Homo sapiens: one gene and its partners. The protein of the gene in region 5 purifies or fractionates together with the protein of the main gene of each other region. This does not show direct contact. Each region holds a gene or a part of one and is shown on either strand. Other genes may lie near its edges.

What was found.
Region 1: the proteins of CLEC16A (region 5) and PDS5A purify together in Homo sapiens (affinity purification with mass spectrometry, with the first as the bait; one study listed by BioGRID). This does not show direct contact.
Region 2: the proteins of CLEC16A (region 5) and AARS2 purify together in Homo sapiens (affinity purification with mass spectrometry, with the first as the bait; one study listed by BioGRID). This does not show direct contact.
Region 3: the proteins of CLEC16A (region 5) and PDCD6 purify together in Homo sapiens (affinity purification with mass spectrometry, with the first as the bait; one study listed by BioGRID). This does not show direct contact.
Region 4: the proteins of CLEC16A (region 5) and CAPRIN1 purify together in Homo sapiens (affinity purification with mass spectrometry, with the first as the bait; one study listed by BioGRID). This does not show direct contact.
Region 6: the proteins of CLEC16A (region 5) and GCAT purify together in Homo sapiens (affinity purification with mass spectrometry, with the first as the bait; one study listed by BioGRID). This does not show direct contact.
Region 7: the proteins of CLEC16A (region 5) and NPEPPS purify together in Homo sapiens (affinity purification with mass spectrometry, with the first as the bait; one study listed by BioGRID). This does not show direct contact.

The regions. Positions count from the first base shown.
Region 1 is NC_000004.12:39,862,912-39,866,411, forward strand, and holds part of PDS5A (sister chromatid cohesion protein PDS5 homolog A), read right to left. Parts: intron 549-3,500; coding exon 425-548; intron 163-424; coding exon 1-162. UniProt on the Homo sapiens protein: Probable regulator of sister chromatid cohesion in mitosis which may stabilize cohesin complex association with chromatin. May couple sister chromatid cohesion during mitosis to DNA replication.
Region 2 is NC_000006.12:44,298,231-44,300,789, forward strand, and holds the end of AARS2 (alanine--tRNA ligase, mitochondrial), read right to left. Parts: intron 2,482-2,559; coding exon 2,317-2,481; 3' UTR 501-2,316; downstream 1-500. UniProt on the Homo sapiens protein: Catalyzes the attachment of alanine to tRNA(Ala) in a two-step reaction: alanine is first activated by ATP to form Ala-AMP and then transferred to the acceptor end of tRNA(Ala). Also edits incorrectly charged tRNA(Ala) via its editing domain.
Region 3 is NC_000005.10:312,560-315,474, reverse strand, and holds the end of PDCD6 (programmed cell death protein 6), read right to left. Parts: intron 1,059-2,915; coding exon 960-1,058; 3' UTR 501-959; downstream 1-500. UniProt on the Homo sapiens protein: Calcium sensor that plays a key role in processes such as endoplasmic reticulum (ER)-Golgi vesicular transport, endosomal biogenesis or membrane repair.
Region 4 is NC_000011.10:34,089,731-34,093,230, reverse strand, and holds part of CAPRIN1 (caprin-1), read right to left. Parts: intron 3,053-3,500; coding exon 2,942-3,052; intron 2,703-2,941; coding exon 2,553-2,702; intron 1,326-2,552; coding exon 1,175-1,325; intron 1-1,174. UniProt on the Homo sapiens protein: mRNA-binding protein that acts as a regulator of mRNAs transport, translation and/or stability, and which is involved in neurogenesis, synaptic plasticity in neurons and cell proliferation and migration in multiple cell types.
Region 5 is NC_000016.10:10,947,564-10,951,063, reverse strand, and holds part of CLEC16A (protein CLEC16A), read right to left. Parts: intron 1-3,500. UniProt on the Homo sapiens protein: Regulator of mitophagy through the upstream regulation of the RNF41/NRDP1-PRKN pathway. Mitophagy is a selective form of autophagy necessary for mitochondrial quality control.
Region 6 is NC_000022.11:37,810,934-37,814,165, forward strand, and holds part of GCAT (2-amino-3-ketobutyrate coenzyme A ligase, mitochondrial isoform 2 precursor), read left to right. Parts: intron 1-1,953; coding exon 1,954-2,055; intron 2,056-2,343; coding exon of another isoform or gene 2,344-2,529; coding exon 2,530-2,676; intron 2,677-3,232. UniProt on the Homo sapiens protein: Pyridoxal phosphate (PLP) dependent enzyme, which catalyzes the cleavage of 2-amino-3-oxobutanoate to glycine and acetyl-CoA.
Region 7 is NC_000017.11:47,583,108-47,586,607, reverse strand, and holds part of NPEPPS (puromycin-sensitive aminopeptidase), read right to left. Parts: intron 1,109-3,500; coding exon 908-1,108; intron 461-907; coding exon 364-460; intron 244-363; coding exon 210-243; intron 1-209. UniProt on the Homo sapiens protein: Aminopeptidase with broad substrate specificity for several peptides. Involved in proteolytic events essential for cell growth and viability. May act as regulator of neuropeptide activity.

The DNA of each region.
Region 1 (3,500 bases), on a different chromosome or scaffold from region 5:
GATATTTTTCAGTAAACATTGTCGTGCGTGTGCTCTTCTCTCCTTCACAGGATCTTTGGCACACAAGGCAAAGATCGCCATATACTCCAATGGGAGCAGTAACTTCACAAGTGCCTTATGCAGCTTCTGAGCAAATATCTGCCTTACTTGGTAACACTCATCCTACAGCAGCACAGAAAAACTTAAATTGGCAACCATTTATTAAATAAAAAACAGCAGTTTAAGTATTTTTAGTGTCTTCAATTAAAAAGAAGATAATTATATGGGAGAATAAATAATGTAATAATTGGAAGACAGTTAAACAGGTAATAATAGTAGTGACTTTTGTGCATATATTCACATTATAAATGGATTTGTATCCATAGAAAAGTAATGTATTCAACTTTGAAGATAAGTAATTGACAAAAATAAGATTGTTACTTACATTAATAACAAGTGCACAGAGCTGAAACTGTTCTGGGGTAATAATTTCATGGTAACAAGGTTCCTGAGCAAGCTTCATTATGGCACTACCAGCAGCTAATCGCAAGCGAGACATATCAGATTTACTATAAACAAACAAAAAAGAAATAAACATTTCCTATAACCACTATCATTCATAAAAATGCTTTCGTCCCTTTTTGAATGTAAGGTCCTTAGAGCATAATTTATGTTTAAAATGACGTACAAATATGGGAAAGCTACTTTGAGTCCATGAACTTAACACAGGGGATTGTGACTTTCACAATCAAATCAAATCATTGTGACTTTCTGATTACAAATTTACCTGCCTTCATTTCTAGTCAAACTCTAGCTTAGATACTTCACCACAACCCAAAAACTCTGCTTATTCTTGCAACCATAGTAATTGCAAGGCTAGGAAAAACTCTTTACATCAGGAGCTGTATCCCTCATTTTAAGAGAAATACATATTGATTGTAGAAAACTTGATTAAAGTGGCCAGGCATGGTGGCTCACACCTGTAATCCCAGCACATTGGGAGGCCGAGGTGGACGGATCACGAGGTCAAGAGATTGAGACCATCCTGGCCAACATGGTGAAACCCTGTTTCTACTAAAAATACAAAAAATTAGCTGGGTGTGGTGGCACGCACTTGTAGTCCCAGCTACTTGGGAGACTCAGGCAGGAGAACTGCTTGAACCTGAGAGGTGGAGGTTGCAGTGAGCCAAGGTCGCACCACTGCACTCTACCCTGGCAACAGAGTAAGACTCTGTCTCAAAAAAAACAAAAAACAAAAAACAAAAAACAAAAAAACTTGATTAAAAAAACCACAAAGAATTAAAAAAAAAATCACCTATCATCATTTAAAATCTATTTCCTGCATATAAACATGTAACAGGAATCTAGTTTAATGCCTGCTGAAATGGCAGGGCTGCAGTTAAGAGTGAAGAAGTATCAGACAAATACCTAAAGGATATGAAATATAAGAGGCCAGTGTCTGTCTTAGGTACTAGTTCCTGGGGCTGATCTCCTTTTGCAGAGTAAAGTTTTCAAATGGAACCTATGAAGCCTTGGCACTCCCACCCCGACACTGTGGATTTTTATTACTTACGTGGTAAAATGTGGTAATGAATGGGATGGCATGGGAGTCTTTCTACTTCGACTTCTATGTGGAACATAGCATGGCTTTTGTATTTATTGTGACCACTTTACGAAATGCAGAAAGCTAGCCGGAACCCACTGGGACTGTTGCTAAGCATAGAGAGAAGAAAACCTGGCACTCTTGGACAACAGGATTGTTAAAATGAGCACTGGTAACAATGAGGGAGCCTCAAATGGTTTCTATGGCATTCATTCAGGAATCAAAGTTAATAGCTATTATGTGAGTGCTTACTCCGTGCCAGGCAGGTGTGAAAAACACTTTATAGGCTTTATCTCAATTAATTTTCACTCCATAAGATGAGGAAATTGAGGCTTACAAAAGGTAATACTATATTATATGATATCCAGTTAGGATCTGTCCAATGGGTGTTCATTCTATGGTTAACCATTCCCCTATTTTTTGTGATGGAAAATAATGCTGGAGGAACATGCTTGTGTATAAGCTTTCATATGATTCTTTTATACTCATGAATTATGAGTGTAAAAATAAAGAGTCAAGGATAACATTTTTGAGGATCTAGATGCAAAATGCCAAAGAGTCCTGCTAATTTATACTCATAGGAGTAATGAAGGAACCCATTTCCATGATCATACTGAGGAATGATTGCTTATAACGTTTTTTTTTCTTTCTGATTTGTAATGAAAAGAGGTATTGATTAAGTTTAAATTGTATTGACTGCATTTAGTGATGTTAAACTTTTAAAAGTAAACTGATAATAGCTAAACTTCATCTCCACTGGGGGTCCTGCCTAGGTATCACTGACTTGTAAGAGCTCATTATTATGCCTTTGCCATGTACTGTACATAATTACCCCCAATTTAAAGCTTTCATTATCCCTAACTCAGCTCTAAACAGTGTTATAAAAGGCTGCCTTTGGCTTATTCTATGATAAAAATAGAGCGTAGTGGTGCACACCTATAGTCCCACTACTCAGGAGGCTGAGGCAGGAGGATTGCTTGAGCCCAGCTAGCCTGGGCAACATAGTGAGATCCCATTCCTAATCACAATAATTTTTAAAAAAATTAATAGCATAGCAGTACCACATAACTAGCCAAAGCTGGAGTACAATGGCGTGATCTTGGCACACTGCAACCTCCACCTCCTGGGTTCAAGTGATTTTCATGCCTTAGCCTCCCCAGTAGCTGGGATTATAGGCACGTACCACCACACCTGGCTAAATTTCTATATTTTTAGTAGAGACAGGGTTTCAACATGACCTCAATTGATCTGCCTGACTTGGCCTACCAAAGTGCTGGGATTACAGGCGTAAGCCACTGCACTCAGCCTCATAAAGAATGATTAAACCTCTGTCCTCTAAAACAAATTTTTAAAAAGGAATGCATCATATGTAGAATACTTTAGTTATCTATGTTGGTAATCTTGGCCCCTACTAAATCAAGAATTTGACAGAAACCAGGATCATGAAAAACTGAGCTTCTATTTTCATCTTAAAATGAGATGGCAATTTTAGAGATTAAAAGTGAAAATGTGTAACAATGTAAACAATCTCTGTGTGCACATACAAGTGTACACACCCAAATCTGTAGAACAACAAGAAGGCTTCAACTCTCCCTTGAGTTGCCATTGCAATTTTTATTTTTATTTATTTATTTATTTTGAGACAGGCTCTCGCTCTGTTGCCCAGGCTGGAGTGCGGTGGCACGATCTCAGCTCACTGCAACCTCTGCCTTCTGGTTTCAAGCGATTCTCCTGCCTCAGCCTCCTGAGTAGCTGGGATTACAGGCATGTGCCACCATGCCTGGCTAATTTTTGTTTTTTGTTTTAGTAGAGACGGGGTTTCACCATATTGGCCAGGCTGGTCTTGAACTCCTGACCTCGTGATCTGCCCGTCTCGGCCTCCCAAAATGCTGGGATTACAGGCATAGGCCACCGCGCC
Region 2 (2,559 bases), on a different chromosome or scaffold from region 5:
CGCTCCTTCACACAGTCCATGCCCTGTGCCAAACTCTCTTCCAGCCCTGGCGCGACAAGATGTGGTTGGGGCCCCAGATCTCCTGGAGGGCGAGAGGGACAGACCAGAGGGACGGCTAGTAAAAAAAAAGAAATTGGCCTTCAGGAAGGGAGAGGCAGCCAGGGTGGCGGGGCTTTCAAAGGGTAGCTTTGACTTCAGCTCTGCCGAGGACTACTAGTTGGTTACCCTGGATGAACATCTCGAAGCTCTGTTAACTCATCAATAAATCAGGGGTGCCAAAACTCATCTTGGCGCTCGCGGAGGAGCTTGAACCTGGGCCTGTGGTGAGCACTGCTAAACAGGCTACTGCCCCAGTGGCCAGGATGCTGCTTTGCAAGCAGTGAGGGGCCAGGCACCCGGGATTGGGTCCCTTCAAGCCCTCAGCAGTGCCTTACCAGCAAATCATCAGTGCCTTAATTAGAATGAGAAACTGCAGAAAATGATGCCAGGCGGGCCCACGCTGCTCGAATAATTTTTACTAGACAGAATTTGGTAGCCAGGGAGCCCTTGATTTGAAGATGGATCCCCTGAGGCCCTTTCCTTCATCTAGCAACAGAGATCTAGGAACAAAGGCAGAGGTCCAAAGTCTGGCTGTCTGAGGTGGACTCATTCTGGTAGGGAAGGAGGGCTTTCCTCCATCTCTGCTTCCTCCTGCTTTGAAGTGCCAATTTTCAGCTTCAGCTCAGGCTTGAGGCAGGTGCTGTACAACTTGTTTTAATAAGCATATTGTTTGTCTGACCCCGCTCTCCAGCCTCCTCACCTGCCCCTATCCCAGCTCACTGCTCAGTGGCACTGGCCACCTCACGGCCTCTGCATTGGCTGTTCCCTCAGGCTGGAATGCTTTTCCCTGATTTCCACACGGGTCACACCCTCACCTCCCAGCTCCCTGCTCACATGTCACCTCTTGGTGAGGGAATATCACCATCCACACTCCTGATCCCCATTCTCTATTTCCCCCCCAGACCTCATCACCATCTGACACTTTCTCCCTTCTTTTTTTTAAGACAGGGTCTCACTCTGTTGCCTGGAGTGCAGTGGTGCAATCATAGCTCACTGCGGCCTTGAATTCCTGGGCAAAGTGATTTTCCCACCTCAGCCTCCCAAGTAGCTGGGACCAAGGTGTGGGTAGTCTCAGCTACCTGGGAGGCTGAGGCATAAAGATTACTTTTTTTTTTTTTTGTAGACAGGGTCTTGCTGTTTGCGCAGGCTGGTCTTGCACTTCTGGCCTCAAGCGATTCTCCAACCTCAGCCTCCTAAAATGCCAGGATTATAGGCATGAGCCACCAAGCCTGACCCTCTTCTTTTGCTTTATTTCCTGTTTCCTCCACATGAAGCAGGCTCCATGAAGGAAGGAACTGTCAGTTTAGTGCCCGCCACGTTCTCAGTTGCTCAATTCATCAACAAACCAGCAGGGCCCAATTTAAATTAGAGGTCATTGTTAATGAAAGAAGTAATAGCAAAGAAGGTCTCCAGTGCTGAAATGATTTTCACAGGATGGTTCTGTATCTTCCCAGTAGCCAGGGAGCCCTTTGTCTGCCCACTGTTGCCTGGCACGCAGAGCCTGTCCGAACACTCATGGCAATGAAGATGGCCCGATTTGGATCCTGGGTGGCCTTTCAGACAGTGTGAGTTCAGACTGGTCTTAGGTTGCTGGGAGGGGCAAAACTACTCTTTTTTAAAGGTAATAGAACCTTCTGGAGCTTGCTATCCTCTGTGAAATAATTATTTGAGACAGAGTCTCGCTCTGTCACCCAGGCTGGAGTGCAGTGGTGCGATCTTGGCCCACTGCAACCTCCACCTCCCAGGTTCAAGCGATTCTTCTGCCTCAGCCTCCCGAGTAGCTGGGACTACAGGCGTGTGCCACCACACCCGGCTAATTTTTTGTATTTTTAGTAGAGATGGGGTTTCACCATGTTAGCCAGGATGGTTTTGATCTCCTGACCTCATGATCTACCTGCCTCGGCCTCCCAAAGTGCTTGGATTACAGGTGTGAACCACCACACCCGGCCAGTGAAATAATTTCTAATGTGCAGTCACAGCCATAATTGTCCATGTCTTCTCTTTCACCAAGGGGGTGTGTGTCTTTGGGCCCAGTTCTGCCTTCCCTAGCCCATGTCTCCTTGTGTCACGTAGGCCCTGGCCCAGGTGATCTTCTTTGGCTCAGCTGCTTGGCCTCCAGCCTCTAGTCCTCGCTTCAGCATGTGGGAAGGTTCTGCTGGCTCCTTCAGGGCTCCTGGCATTGCCTTTAGTCCATGTGGGTCCCTGGGCGGACCTGGGTCAGAGCTGGCTGAGGGCATAGGTTTGGGCTATACTGAGGGCAGCTTCCAGGTCAGTAGTGCTTCCGGTGCCTTGGGCCACCACTCGTGAGCCCCACGCCTTGCCCCCCATGTGGCTGCACACTGCCAGTGCCCAGGCCTCTGCTGTGAAGGTGGGCATGGCACCCTAGGAACAGAATCAGAAGAGGAAGCGATGCAGAGTGGCCCTCCCTGCCAGCATCCACTCAAGGTACCCTCAAGAGTG
Region 3 (2,915 bases), on a different chromosome or scaffold from region 5:
AGAGGCTGCAGCCCCAAAACCAGACGCATCACTGTGGAAGGGAAGCGTCTGGAGAATGAGGCTGGGCCTCGGGAGTGTCAACCCAGGAGGGCCGGCGCTGCACAGTGAGGCAGGGAGGCGGACCGGGCAGCGCTGGCAGTGGACCGAGGTGAGCAGGATGCGCTGGGTGGACAAACGCTGCAGGCCACGTGCAGAGACTGCAGGGCACAGCATGGCTAAATCATTAATGATGGAAATGCACAACCTGCTATACCAAATTGGATTTCTTCATCCAAAAGGAGCAGTCTTATGAAATTTAACCTCCTGAACAGAGGGTGAGACAGTCCCTCTGGATTTTCACAAGCAGAGCTGTGCACGCTGGGCTGGACAATGTTCCAGAAGGTGCCCGGTACCCTGGGAGGTCCCAGGCAAGCCAGAACATCTGACACTGACTGTCTGGAGGACCAGGGCACGGGGCCTGGTTCTTGGACCTATTTGATTTGAAAAGCTGAAGGCAGACCACACGTCTAACATTCCCTTTATTGCTTACGTCACATATTCCAATGAATACAATAAACTCCTTTTTAAAAAAGTAAGGCACATGAAAAGCCTTTTGTGTAAGTTCCATGTTATTTTAAAATTCCTATTGGCTAATAAAAGCATTTGCACTATAGAACCAGAGACATCTAGAAAAGCACATGATAGATTTTTTTGCAAGCAGAATGCCTGAAACATTACATTTACCTCATGGCACAATGAGACAGTCACCAAATCCAATGTCTGCATTAGAACGATACAGCTACTATTACAGTTGCAAAACCATTAATCAGCTTATCCACATATGTACAGCTGGGTCCCCACGTGACAAAATCTAAAGGAAGAACAGCATCTAACTGCACCTGTGCTCCATTCCCTCACAGATAGGAACTGTGACATTTTGGCTCTTTCCATGTTGTGCTGCTCTTCACGAGAGGCCAGGGTCATACGATACTGAAGACCATGGACAGGTACTGTTCGTACGACACCTGAATCCAGCCGTCCTGATCCGTGTCGTAACGTCTGAATATATCCGTCAACCTCTGGGGAGAAAACAGGCATTTAAATCTCGATAGTAAATGGAAGGAGCAAGGTGCACTGGGACAAAGGCATGTAGGGACCCAATTTCAGAAGCACACACGTCTTCTGGGCTCCCTGATGGAGCCCAGCACAGGGAGGCGCAGGTGGGGCTGGAGCTGTTCACACGGACGGTGGGAGTGCGAAGAACGAAGAACACAGGGCTGCGGGGCTGGCTCCGGACATCCAGCCCTGGCTGAGCCCCTGGCTGAGCCCCTGACCCCAGGCTCTGGTCTCCTGAGTCTCCTGGGGGCCTGGGCCCTTCCTTCTCCCCCTGAAGACCGTCCCGTGGAAGCCCTCCACCCTCCAGTGGCTCGCCTCTGCTGTGGGGGCCACCTGGGGCATGTGCAGCGCAGGGGATGCCCAGCCAGATGGGCTTGTGACATCACGAGGGCTTCAGGTTCCTCCAGCCCAGCCCACCCCTCCCTCTCACAGCCGAGGGTCCAGGCCAGGTCAGCGGCAGAGACAGGGTGACCACCTACACTCCTGAAACAGGGATGGTTAAGTAAGTGACACTTCAACCGTAAAATACCCTGAAGATTCAGGCCAGCATGGTGACTCTCGCCTGTGATCCCAGCACTTTGGGGGTCCGAGGCGTGAGGATCGCTTGAGCCTGAGGGTCGAGGCTGCAGTGAGCCGTGTTCGCACCACCACACTCTGGCCTGGGTGATGGAGCAAGGGTCTGTCTCAAGAAAGAAGAAGAAAATGTGGCAGGGAAGACACAGCGTCCTCGCACATCAAGACCTGCAGGAACATGGACAGGGTGTGGTGACTCTCGCCTGGGATCCCAGCTACTCAGGAGGCCAAGGCAGAAGGATCGCTTGAGCCTCAGGGTCAAGGCTGCAGTGAGCTGTTTACACCACCACATTCCAGCTGGGGTGACAAGAGTGAGACTCCATCTCAAAGAAAAAAAAACAACCCTGCAGGAATGCCACAGCCACCACCGGGCTCCTTGACTTGGCAGAGGCTACGGCCTCACCCAACTCCAAAAGCACCGCAATGGATAATGCTGGCTTAAAGAGTAATGGGTAATTTTTCTTTCTATTTTGAATACTTTGTGTTTTTCTAGGGTTTCTAGAAGTGTTCATGTTATTTGTTAGAAAATAATTTTCAAAAAGCCTTTATCCTTTCAGAAAAAGCAGATAAATAAAAACGTTTTTGAGGGAATTTTAACTTGAGGTCTGCAGCTTTCTTTTCTTTCCCATTCCCCATCTGTCTAGCGTTTAGGGTCACTCTCCAAGGGTGGGGACAGCCTGGGAATTGGCTGTCAGGCCCTCCCCACGTGGTCTGGAGCAGGGCCTTGAGGAGGCATCTCCCAGGAGGAGCTACGCTGGCTGCAGATGTGCCTTGGAAGGCGCTGGAGAGGTCGCTGTGAGGCCGCCTGTGTTACTCCAGCTACCGAAAGCTCACACAAGATCAACGTTAACTTATAGAACATAACCTCAAATGAAGATCTGAGCCCTACGGCAATTCAGACACAGAACCTCAAATGAAGATCTGAGCCCTACGGCAATTCAGACACAGAACGAGATTTTACACGGCATCTTTTCCCTTTTTCTTTTCTTTCTTTTTTAAGACAGGGTCTGGCTCTGTCACCCAGGCTGGAGTGCAGTGGTGTGATCTCGGCTCACTGAAACCTCCACCTCCCGGGTTCAAGTGATTCTCCTGCCTCAGCCTCCTGAGTAGCTGGGACTACAGGCATGCGACACCAGGCCCAGCCTACACTTTTTTGAAAGTGTTCAGAGAACATTGTAAAAATGTCATCCAACCTGGCAGGAACCCCGAGAGGCAGGGGCAGGAAAGGGTCCCCAACCGTAGAGTTT
Region 4 (3,500 bases), on a different chromosome or scaffold from region 5:
GACAGAGACCCCATTTCTTAAAAAAATATATATATAAAAAAAAATCTAAAGTATCTCTATCGAGCTAGACAAGGTAGTTCATGCCCATAATCCCACCACTCTGGGAGACAGAGACAATAAGTTCGCTCAAGGCAAGGAGTTGGAGATCAGCCTGGCATCATAGTGAGCTCCTGGAGACCCTATCTCTACAAAAAAAAAAAAAAAATTAGCCAGCCATGGCGGTAAGCACCTGTAGTCCCAACTACCAACTACTCAGGAGGCTGAGGGAGGAGGATCATTGAGCCCAGGAGTTTGAGGCTGCAGTGAGTTATGCTGGCATCACTGCACTCCAGCCCGGGCAACAAAGTGAGAACCTGTCTCAAATACATAAAAGCGTCCCTACCTACATTACTATCGTGACAGGTATGGTAACTAGCCAAATTATGACCTTACTTGACAAAATAGATTATGTTTCAACCCAGTCCACGAAATGCAGCCACCATGAGTTTTTTCTTAACTTTGTCTAACTGACTCAATGCCAGATATCATGCTAAAAGCCTTCAATCAATTAACAATTAAAAGTATAGTTTATCACCAGGTGCAATGGCTCACGCCTTTAATTCCAGCACTTTGGGAGGCTGAGGTGGGCAGATCACGTGAGCTCAGAAGTTCAAGACAAGCCTGGGCAACATGGTGAAACCCCAACTTTACCAAAAATACAAAAAATTAGCTGGACGTGGTGGCACATGCGTGTATTCCCAAGCTACTTGGGAGGCTGAGGTAGGGAGGATTGCTTGTGTCCAGGAGGCAGAGGTTGCAGTAAGCCGAGATCACGGCACTGCGCTCCAGCCTGGGTGACAGAGTGAGACCCCATCTCAAAAAAAAAAAAAAAAGTACACTTTATGGTAATTCAAGTAACAAATTTAATTCCATATAAATTATACAATGCAACAGGGATATTATGTAAGTTCAGTGACAAAAGGAAAATGGCTATAAAGCCTCCAAAAATTGCACATAATTCACATATACAAGTACAGACTCAATTTAACTCATGATCTGAAATGAAAAATTCATATGGTCTGCTACTAAAACAGAAACTCTTGGACACCACCACTCTGAAGTCTAAACTGTCCTAACACTGTCAATAACTGTGCTGGAAAGCAAGGAGCCAATGAGGTGACACTGGATTTCGTACCTGTTTGAAGCTGTTCTTGCTGAAGCTCTGTTTGTTCTACTTGGTGAGGCTGACTAGAAAAGCTCTGGTTATAACTGGCCTGGTACTGATTTTGCTGTTTTAAAGTTTCTGGTTCATTAACAGGAGGAACTGGGGCATTCATATTGAACACCTGTTAGTAAATAAAGTAAATGATTAGTTCATCCTTTTATTCTCTGGTTTATAACATGGCCAAACTCAATGGTGGTTTTACCTCAGACATAAATAAAGACATCACAGAGGTCTCAAACACAAAAACATCACACACACATACAAAAATCCCTCCAAGTGATTCAATGTGGAAAAAGACATATATACCATATAGTACTTAAAGGGGAGTATAATATGCTGTGAAATGGAAGTAGGGAATTAAAAAAAATAAAAAGACATGCAATCAGCAGCCTTGGAAATGCTTTTACATATATGAGAAATCTTTTTAAAAGACAAACTCTGGCCTGGCACAGTGGCTCACACCTGTAATCCCAGCACTTTGGGAGGCTGAGGCAGGCAGATCATCTGAAGCCAAAAGTTCAAGACCAGCCTGGCCAACATGGTGAAACCCCGTCTCTACTAAAAATACAAAAATTAGCTGGGCATGGTGGCTTATGCCTGGAGTGTCAGCTACTCCAAAGGCTGAGGCATGAGAATCGCTTGAACCCAGGAGGCGGATATTGCAGTGAGCTGAGATCACGCCACTACACTCCAGCCTGGGCGACGGAGCAAGACTTTGTCTCAAAAAATAAATAAATAAGACAAACTCCTGGATGCAGTACCACTTACAGAAGTTTGTTCTATGAACTTTAACAGGGTTGAATGTTTTTTCATTTTTATTAACATATTAATCAAAAGTTATTTTAATATTTAATCTTATGAACTTTCCTCTCAGCACCGATTTAGCTGCACCCCACAGATTATAGTATTATTATTATTTTCTAGAAATTCTCTAAAGGTGCTTGCTCAAGAATCAAGGTAAAGCATAACATCTGAAACTTCAAAATACTTCAGTAAAATAAAAGATTAAGCAAACAGGGCAACTATTAAATCTAGGTAATGATTATATGGATGTTATATTAGTCTATTTCTCTGAATGTTTAAGCTTTTGTTAATCAAATCAAAAGGGTAAAACTACAAATTAAGATGATACAGGCACATCACTCATAAGGCTAAAATTTATCTCTAGAATATCCGTTAGTATCAGTTAATCTCTGGAATAATCAGTTTATGTTCAATTAAATATACCCTACAGTTAATGAAAGATGCAGACTCAAGCACAGTTAAATGAAGACCTTTAAAAAAGAAAAGAAAATCTACCATGATTCATATTACATACTAGGCAATTAATGTTAGTTAATTTGCTTACCGTTTGCATGGATTGGAATGGAGCTGCATTTACATTGATTCCACTGCTATGTAAAGGTTTGCTTGTCCCAGCCTGAAATACTTGAGGCTGAGACGCAGCAGGAAGGGATGATGATGCTGTAGTCTGGTCTGTATTTAAAGAGATTGTTGCCTAAACACAAAGTGAATAGATGCACTTTAGCGGTAAACTAAACTTAGCCAAACAAAAAGTGAACAGATGTACTAAAGTGGTAAATTAATCTCAAACTTATATGTATTAACAAACTCAAATATTTCATGAAAGCAAAGTAGGTCCAAAAAGAAGAATCATTATATTAATGGTAATGTACATCTGTTCAATTCATGAGTAAGTGCCTCATCAAATGTATGTGACCCGGTAACAGAACTTGCCTGAATCTGATCAATTGGTTCCTTCTGTGGTCGTTGCTCTGTAGCATGAGAAGGCTGGTACAAGGGTTGAGATGCTGTGTACCCCTCACTTGTGGATGATACCAAAGGAACCTAGACATAAGTAAAGAAATAAAAGCTTCTTCCTGCTTACAAAATTGACTGTTAAAAAAACAAGTTACCTCTAAGACGCATAAGGCTAAGAAATAGATACAACTGCTAAAGAAGGGAGAAATTAATATTACCATCTCTCTTTAAATTTGTATAATATAAAACCTAAAAATTGCAAAAATATATATATTTTTGAAGCTCGACGTTAAATAAACCCAAGTCTCGTTATAAAAGCCCTCCACAAGTACTTCTAAGATGGAGAAATCTGCACTAAATTTTAGAATTATGTCTAAACTATGTCTTCTGAAATTCTCAGTTCTAAATAAAAAAGGCTTATTATATTATAATACATTATTTAAAATGCAAGACTTAAGAAAAACTTAAAAAGTCATCAAGAGGAAAAATGAACCTAAACATAAAAATAAAGGCTGACAGCTATCCACAACAATAA
Region 5 (3,500 bases):
CCACTACAGTTAATAATGCCCCATATCCTTCAAAAATTAGCAATTCAGTCCATTTCAGAGACAGGAATACTAGGTCCAAGTTCATTTCAGTGACAGCATTTTCTGCACGTGCTATGCCTTGCACCATAATGAGCTTATTAGGATGCTCCTCCTTCAAGATTTTGAAATGTACATTTGCAAGGTGGGGCATGAGAAAGGATAAGCAGAATGATAGGAGGTCTGGGGGTTAGAAATTTACCCCCCAATGTCCACACAGCTCCAAATAACAATGTCTCAGGTGTGGTAGAGGGATGGGAGACACAGAGCCTGTATCTGTCTGGCCTGTTCAGCACTCGGGCAGAGGCCCTGCAGACGTTCCCCAGTGTGTCCCACTCTGTGCCCTGAAAACCACCATCTGGTCAGTGTTCAGCCTTCTGGCCAGCAGGACAAGGAGAAGCTTCACGGAGGGTGGAATCAGGCTAGAGGATTAGAGAAGGTGTTCACAGGCTGTGCTTCCCCTGGTGAATCATCCCCCAAAGATGTCAAACAGGGCCGGCAAGTGAGGCTGGGCCGGGGATGTGTAGGGTATAGGCAGGGCTATACCCTAGCTTTCTTTAGGGCTTTAGCCCTAGAGAAAGTCATGGCTGTGGCACAGGTGCTGTGACTAAACTGGGGAGAACAAGCAGTTGTTGGGAAAAGACTGGCCTTTTCTGAAAACAGAGGTCTGCCTCTCGTTCATCCTGTGACAAATATTTGTTGATTGCTTACTATCTGCCACGTCCTGTGCTGGCATACCAGTACCCAGCTGAACAAGCCATACAGGCTTTCATGATTCTTATGTTCAAATTGGGAGAAAACAACAAAAAAGATATGTAACAAAGGAAGACAATGTCTGATAGCCAAAGGACAGGAACCCCGGCCAGCTTCCTGAGGGTCTAACTCAAGGCCGAGATGAAACTTTAAGAACGCACAGGAGCTAACAGCCGACCCACTCTTTGGCGATGAGAAGTATATAATAATGTGTTAACTGTGTGGGACAGTGTGAACAGGCACAGAAGAAGTTAGAGAAGACAGCAAAACTCTTGTTGGCTGAAGTCACCAGGGCAATTTTTAGGGAAGAACTGGCATTTTCGGGATAGAGCTAGGGATTTGGATGGGCAGGAGGAAAAGAGCAGGGGACCTCAAGTGGGCAGGCGAGGTATGTGTGTGAGTGGACCACCAACAGGAGATACACCTGGATGACAGCAGCTGCTACCGTAACTCACCAGGGGACGGCAGCAGAGCCCCTGCTCCCCGCCCCACCAACACATGTGGAGGCCCACCTCCAGTCTGCCCCTCATCCAATCCATTCTGCCAGCTTCAGCCAGACCACAGCCTTTCTGTAGTTAAAAAACCTTCAGTGGCTCCCTACTGTTCTCACTCATAGTCTGAATTCCTTAAAGTGATTTACAGGGCCCCAGGGGACCTGGCCTCTGGAGACTGCCAAGCATGGCTCTGAGCTTGGGTCCTCACTTCCTCTTCACCCAGTGAACACTCCCCTGCTGAACCACGTGAGTTCTGCCAATGTGCACTGCTCCCCTTGCCCCACTAGGCTTTCTCAAATGCCTTTTCCTCTGCCTGAAACATCCTTCCTTCCACCTGACACCCCGCTGCCTGGTAACAACGACTCACCCCGTTGGTCTCCATTTAAACAGCGTCTGCCTAACAAGGATGTTCCTAACTCCCTGTGCTCCCAAACTAGATGGTGGGAAGGCCTGGAAGAACTTAGACGTGACATAGTGGGAGCCTAGGACCCATAATATGTGGCATGGTGAAGACGATATTTTAAGAAAATCAACATGGCAATATTGTACCCCAAGCTCTAACACTGTCAGTGCCACCTTAGCCAAAACTTGAAAGCACCAAGAGTAGGTGTGCGTCTGTCTACCTGCCATGGATCCATTCTCCGCCTTCTTTGGGCAATAACCCCTGATTCTCCCATGGGGAACCACTCTTTTCTCTCATTCTTTTCCACTAGCTTGAGTGGAGCTAATCCCACTCTTGCTCCAGGGAAGGGAATATGAGTGAGGAATGGCCAATCAGATCCCCCTATACCTTTGGCCAGAGTGACAGTTCAGGGGTGGCATGAGACCTTGCTGGTCCAGGGATACTCAATCTCAATTCTGGACTTCTGCTGGCAATATTGAGAAAAGAAGCTCTCTTTTTCCTCAGGAATGCTAAGCTGATATGATGTAAGCCTGCAGCCTGCCTGAAAATGACACCAACAGGAAAAAGGTAGAGCTGAAAGGTGGAAAAAGGCCGATTTCTGACGGCTCCAAACACCTGGATTCAGCCATGGTTTAGCGGGGACAGACCATTCAGTGACATGAGCTATTCAATCCATTTGAGGCTTAAGGCAATTCTAGCTGGGTTTCTGTCACTGGAACCAAAAATCTTGACCCCCACACAAAGTGGACCAGAATGAAGGCCACAATACAAAAACGACCAATTTCTACCAGCCGCAGACTTGCAGTCCCTGGTAAAGATGATGTTTCAGTAGCAATCAAACGATTCCATCACTCAGGCTTCCGCTTGGTGGTGGACATTTGTCAGTCAATGTCACAGCCTTGCCACTAATCTGGACAATAAACCACCCATGGTGTGTAGCAAATAACCTCTTGACTACTTCAATCTGCCTGAGCTAAATCACTAACTCAGTTCAGCAGACAGAGACCACAGGTATGAAGTTTTCTACCATTTAGCAAAAGTAAAACCCTAACAGGAAAATTCCTTTCCAGTTTGCAAGCTGGGAGTGTTACAAAGAATAATGAAGCTAAAAACAGTTTCCAGCTCTCTGTGCTATCTTCTCAACCTTTCTGTAAATCTCAAACTGTTCTAAAAAAGTAAAGTCTAGGCCGGGTGCAGTGGCTCATGCCTGTAATCCCAGCACTTTGGGAGGTCAAGGAGGGCAGATCACAAGGTCAGGAGATCGAGACCATCCTGGCTAACACGGTGAAACCCCGTCTCTACTAAAAATACAAAAAATTAGCTGGGCGTGGTGGCGGGCGCCTGTAGTCCCAGCTACTCTGGAGGCTGAGGCAGGAGAATGGCGTGAACCCGGGAGGCGGAGCTTGCAGTGAGCCAAGATCGTGCCACTGCACTCCAGCCTGGGCAACAGAGCAAGACTCTTATCTCAAAAAAAAAAAGAAGAGGGTTTCCAGATGCCTTGTGTATTTAAAAAATAATAATAATAAATAAATAATTCTTTTAACTATCTTAAACTTTCCCTCTCCATCCATACTGCTCTAGGTCAAGGTAAGAGTGTATTAAGAACTGTCACTTGTCACTGGTAGGGTGACCAGTTTATACTAGTTTGTCCAGGACTTTCCCAGTTTTAGCACTGAAAGTCCCATATCCTGGGAAACCCCTCAGCCCAGGCAAACCAGGACGGTTGGTCACCCGAAGTGTCAGATAAATCCCAAGCCCCTTCCTACTTCCAGCCTTGTTTCCCACAGCTATCAGCCCCCACCTGGACATGCCAC
Region 6 (3,232 bases), on a different chromosome or scaffold from region 5:
GCATTCATTTTCCCACCTGCAAAACAGAGTCCCTCACACCTGACCTTCTATAAGAAAAGAGGAGTAGGCGGCAGGAACTGAGACTAAGGGCTCTGGGGCTGTTCTGACGGGAGCACAGTTGCCAGTGCTGCCCTTTAGTGTCCCTGTTCCTGTGGGCAAGTATCTTAACTTTTCTCTGTCTCAATTACTTCATAGGGAAAATGAAGATAATAGCACTTAATAGGATCATTACAAATTAAAGACTTAATACATGTAATGCTTAGAATAGGCCGGGCGCAGTGGCTCATGCCTGTAATCCCAGCACTTTGGGAGGCTGATGCAGGCGGATCACCTGAGGTCAGGAGTTCAAGACCAGCCTGGCCAACATGGCGAAACCCTTTCTCTACAAAAATATAAAAATTAGCTGGCATGATGGTGGGTGCCTGTAATCGCAGCCACTTGGGAGGCTGAGGCAGGAGAATCGCTTGAACCTAGGAGGTGGAGGTTGCAGTGAGCTGAGATCACGCCACTGCACTCCAGCCTGAGCAACAGAGTGAGACTCTGTCTCAAAAAAAAAAAAAAAAAAAAAAAGCATAGAACAGCCTGGCACATAGTACTGCTCAATGAATGTTGGCTATTATTTATTTTCCAAATGTTACAAAATAAATTTATATAAGTATGAAACTTAAATAGTACTTATTATGTGCCAGGAATTCTTTTAAGAAAATTACAACTATTGGCCAGGCGTGGTGGCTTATGCCTGTAATCCAGGCACTTTGGGAGGCCGAGGTGGGTGGATTACTGAGTTCAAGACCAGCCTGGCCAACATGGTGAAACCCTGTCTGTGCTAAAAATACAAAAATTAGCTGGCCGGGCTCGCTTGAACCCATGAGGCAGGGGTTGCAGTGAGCCACGACGGTGCGACCACACTCCAGCCTGGGTGACAGAGGGAAACTCTGTCTCAAAAAAAAAAAAAAAAGAACATTACAAGTATTAACTCATTAATCCTAAGTGATAGTTGCTATTCTTATTCCCGCTATTGAGATGAGGACACTGAGATCCAGAGAGGTTAAGTGACTTGCCCAGAGGCACACAGCCTGTTGTGGGATTTGAACCCTGGCTCAAGAGTCCATGCTGGCTGGGCATGGTAGTTCACACCTGTAATCCCAATACTTTTGGAGCCCAAAGCAGAAGGATCACTTGATGCCTGGAGTTTGAGACCAGCCTGGGCAACATAGCAAGACCCTCTCTCTAAAAAAAAAAAAATGTTTTTAATTAGCTGGGTGTGGTGGTGCGCACCTGTAGTCCCAGCTACTAGGGAGGGGAGGCTGAGTTGGGAGGATCACTTGAGCCCAGGAGTTCAAGGCTACAGTAAGCTATGGTCTCACTACTGCACTCCAGCCTGAGTGACAGAGAATCCCTGTCTCATTTGCCAAAAAAAAGAAAGAGTCTGTGCTCCTGACTACTTGTGATTATCATTAACTGCCCTCTCAGAAAGGTGAGAGTGAAATGAATGTCAGAGGCAGAACTCCTGACTCGCATCCAGTCACTTCCCAGCAAAGCCCTCACCCAGACCCAACAGTTTTCAAATTTACAAATTAGAGGCCCAGGTGAACCCAGAATTACCTCTGTGATCTTTTTCTTCACCATTAGGCGACCAAAAAAGACACTCAGTATGGTGTTAGGAAGACACATCTTTCTTCTCCACGAGTGCCCGTAATTCCACCATTAGACTGCCACTGTAAAACCAAAGTCTGCCCAGGGAGGGAACCTAACAGGTCCCCAGTTCCTCAGTGGGAACTGTCTGTCAGATTCCTGGCAGCTCTGGGATAGCCCATGTGTGGCAGAAAGTAAGGAGACTGAGGCTGCAGGCTTTCTGGGTTGGGTCTCTGTGGTCCTCCAAGCCTCTGTCCCCTCGAACTTGTCCCACATGACCCCACAGGCATCAACACGTGTCTCACTCATTTTCTTCAGAGCATCCACAAGAATCTAGAAGCAAAAATAGCCCGCTTCCACCAGCGGGAGGATGCCATCCTCTATCCCAGCTGTTATGACGCCAACGCCGGCCTCTTTGAGGTGTGTGGAAGCTGTCCTGCGGGTGAGGGTTGGTGGGGCCTGTTAGGCTGAGGAAGGCTTGGGTGTGGGCAGTCGGGAGAACCTAGCAGGATTCAGTGCCATGCCTAGAGGCTCCAGAGCCCGCTTCTGGAGGTCAAGGTTGGGCCAGGTAGGTGCTCCAGGAGGAATCCTGGGGCTTGCAGGGAGCCTGAGTTCCAGAGCCTTTGGGGGATAAGCTACATCAGCTGGAAGGCTGGGGGAGGCGGGGGCCTGGTACTCACCAAATATATTCTCACCTCCTCTTACTAGAGCAGGGCGCTGGTCCAGCCCGGCACTGAGACACGGGGGCCCCAGAGAGAAGCACAGAACACCTTGCCTCTCTACCCAGAGGAGCGCCCTGGCTGGCAGTACAGTTTTTTGATTTGCTGGAGTCCCGGTCAAGGGAGAAGCCCAGGGTGGTTAAATGATGGCTCTACGCTCACTGCCTCCCTCCAGGCCCTGCTGACCCCAGAGGACGCAGTCCTGTCGGACGAGCTGAACCATGCCTCCATCATCGACGGCATCCGGCTGTGCAAGGCCCACAAGTACCGCTATCGCCACCTGGACATGGCCGACCTAGAAGCCAAGCTGCAGGAGGCCCAGGTGGGGCGACGCCTGGGTCCACCCTCAGCCTCCGCCTGGGGAAGGAAGTGAGGCTTAGAGAGGCCAACTCCTCACTCACAGAGATAGCCTGAAAGTTTGAAACAGCAGAGATTTGTCCAAGATGTGAACCCAGATCCCTCACACCCAGAGCATTATTCTTTTTTTTTTTTCCCTGAGACAGAGTTTCACTCTGTCGCCAAGGCTGGAGTATAGTGGTGTGATCTCGGCTCACTGCAACCTCCACCTCCTGGGTTCAAGTGATTCTCCTGCCTCAGCCTCCCAAGTAGCTGGGATTACAGGCATCCGCCACCCCACCTGGCTAATTTTTGTATTTTTAGTAAAGACGGGGTTTCATCATGTTGTCCAGGCTGGTCTCGAACTCCTGACCTCAGTTGATTTCACCCACCTAGGCCTCCCAAAGTGCTGGGATTATAGACGTGAGCCACTGTGCCTGGCACCAGAGCATTATTCCATTGTGCCATGGTGCCTTGAGGTTTTTCCCTGTGTATGTGTGACAGTCTCACTCTGTTGCCCAGGCTGTATTGCAATGGTGCAG
Region 7 (3,500 bases), on a different chromosome or scaffold from region 5:
TGCTCACTTTAAAATCTTACACCCTCAGACAGTAGCACCAAAGGGAGGGGTGTCCATCTGCATTCTTGAAATGTGCACGGAAGTGGGGGAAGGTAGAAAAATTTACACCATATCGTAAAGCAGAAGCTACTCAACTGTGATTAGGAGGGAAGCCCTTTTGAAATCAGTGATTTGAAAAGATAAGGCAGGGTAACACATCATTAACATACCTATAAGTAACAAGGCCCCAGTTCTCCATGGCACCTTCACAAAATAAATATAAACATTTATTGATATATATATATATATATATACTCTTGCATCAAAAGTCACAAAATTTTAAAAAGTTATTACAATTCAGCAATAAAATGAAATTTACTTTACCAGCTGCAAAGTCTGCAATAGCAATGAGATCAATTTTAGGTAGAGGATAAGGAACATTGAAGTAGTCCTTATAAAAAGGCAAGGTTTTAGCAGCAACCTATAAAAGTATAAACAAAATAACCATCTAATAAATATGTTATTATAATTCATATTGAAACCCACAAAGGAATCCTGTTGCAAGCCAATGTATCTTAAATTACTAGAAATGAATCCCGAGGAGCCCTACCCTCCGAAGACTGCCTTAGCTCCAAACTTTGAATACAATGGCCAAACTTTAATCCATTTATAACTTGATATGAAAAATATAACTACATATTTTCCAACCCATTCCCTAGAGAAATTCCACTCTTATATTCTCTTAATTATTATTTTGTAAAATAATGAAACACCAAGGTTGGCATTTCCTAAATTCTACTAAAAATAAACCAAGTAGCACAACTTTCAGATTAAATTATAAATAACTGTACTAATAATTGACCAGAAATGTAAATTCCCCAACCTGGAGTTATGGACTGTTGGAACAATCCTCTTCAAGTACATTTACCTCTAACGCAAATTTTCCTTGCTCTGCTTTGCCAACAGGAGTGTAAACACGGACACACACACCATCTTTTGACCTTGTTTCTACAAAGTCATATTCACCCACAACAAATGCCACCAGATATGTAGACATAACAGGTGTGCGGGCAAACTTCACTTCCACTAAATTTTCATCATCAGGGTATGGTTTCCGGTCAATTACATTCTTTAAGAAATAAAAAAAAGAAAAATTTAAATAGGTTTACATTAATACCATAGAGCAAATACCAGCCAAAAACTGTAGGCTTTATTGCATCTCTTTACCCCTTTCTATTCTAGCATGGCTTATTTCTCTACCCCAATTCATCCAGTGCTTTTATGCTGTCTTTAAGAAGGAAAGTGGTCTGATAAAACACTCATACTAAGAAGCTGGAGGCTGAAGTGTTAAAACTACCAAGGACCTGTGAAAGAAAAGAGGAATGGACTTTTCTCAAATACTTATTATAAGCCAGGCATTGGGATGATTTAAGTTAAGGGCTTCATACTTTTCAACTGACATAAGTTTAGGAGAAAATGACTATTAATAAAAATAAAATAGGGGCTAGGCGCGGTGGCTCACGCCTGTAATACCAGCACTTTGGGAGGCTTAGGCAGGCGAATCACAAGGTCAGGAGATCAAGACCATCCTGGCTAACATGGTGAAACCCCATCTCTACTAAAAATACAAAACATTAGCCAGGCATGGTGGGGGGTGCCTGTAATCCCAGCTACTTGGGAGGCTGAGGCAGGAGAATGTCGTGAACTAGGGAGGCGGAGCTTGCAGTGAGCTGGGATCACACCACTGCACTCCAGCCTGGGCGACACAGCGAGACTCCTTCTCAAAAATAAATAAATATAATATAATTGTAGAATCTCCCATTTCAAAGGATACAAACTTCTAGATCGAGGGCATTCTCTACCAAAGTTGGCTCTAAGCTTATTTGTGAAGAAATTTCAACTTTACCTTTGGAGTCCCTAATTTCCTTTGGTGTTCTCCCTCTTTTTCCTATTCAGGCTCTGTTTCCTCAAGCTCTCTCTATTCTTCCTTCCAAGGAAGACTTATTCAAGAACACACTGATAAATTCACTCATACTAAAGTGTGAATGAATATTTCCGTTTAATATATTAGCCTCCTCTTCTAAGAATATGTGAGAAGAGAATGACATTCTATTTATGGGATGCTCTCCCCCAATAAATACATAAAAGAGTTATTTTCAGGTGCAGCAGGTTTTTCCAAGTTCCCCACACAAGACAGTCCTAGACAACACACTTCAAGTGGGGAATGCTTACCCTGTTCATGAATGAGATCAATAACACTGGTGAAGAGAATACATTCCAAGAATACAAACAGCCAGAGACCTAAATATACTTCATTACGCAGCTACATCTTTTGAATTTTTTTAACTTTTTAAAAACATAAGAGACAGGGTCTTGCTCTGTTGCAACCTTTTTTTTTTTTTTCCCCCGAGATGGAGTCTTGCTCTGTCACCCAGGCTGGAGTGGAGTGGCGCGATCTCAACTCACTGCAGCCTCCACCTCCCAGGTTCAAGCAATTCTCCTGCCTCAGCCTCCCAAGTAGCTGGGGTTACAGGTGCCTGCCACCATATCTGGCTAATTTTTGTATTTTTAGTAGAGATGGGGTTTCACCATGTTGGCCAGGCTGGTCTCGAACTCCTGGCCTCAAATGATCCACCTGCCTCAGCCTCCTGAAGTGCTGGGATTACAGGCATGAGCCACCATGCCTGGCCTATTTTTTTTTTTTTAAGAGATGGGGTCTTGTTCTGTCACCCAGGCTGGAATACAGTGGCACAATCACGGCTCCCTGTAGCCTCAAACTCCTAAGTTCGAGAGATCCTCCCACATTAGCCTCCCAAGTAGTTAGGATTACAGACACGTGCCACCATACCTGGCTAACTTTTAAGTTTTAAATCTTTTGTAGAAATGAGGTCTCACTATGTTGCCCAGACTGGTGTCAAACTCCTGGCCTCAAGCAATCCTCCTGCCTTAGCCTCCCAAAGCACTGAGATTACAAGCAAGAGTCACTGTACCTGGCTTTCTTATGACATTTAATAAGTCAAGACCTTTTTCTTTTTTTTTTTTCTGAGATAGGGTCTGGCTCTGTCACCCAGGCTGGAGTGCAGTGGTGTGATCTCAGCTCACTACAAACTCCGCTTCCTGGGTTCAAGTGATCCTCCCACCTCGGCCTCCCAACTAGCTGGGACTACAGGTGTGTGCAACCACACTCAGATAATTTTTGTATTTTTAGTAAGGACAGGTTTTCACCATGTTGGCCAGGCTGGTCTTCAACTCCTGACCTCAAGCGATCTGCCTACCTTGACTTCCCAAAGTGCTGGGATGACAGGTGTAAGCCACCATATCCAGCCCAAGACCTTTTGCTTTTAGTTACTATAAATCTATTAAACTTGTCAATTTACCTCTCTAAATTAAAAGAAGTAGATAATCTTATAAATGTATTTAACGAGGAATTTGACAAAGAGAAAATCCTCCAAAAATAAAGCTATCAAGAAAAAGAGGTCTTGGCTGGGCATGGTGGCTCATGCCTGTAATCCCAGCACTTT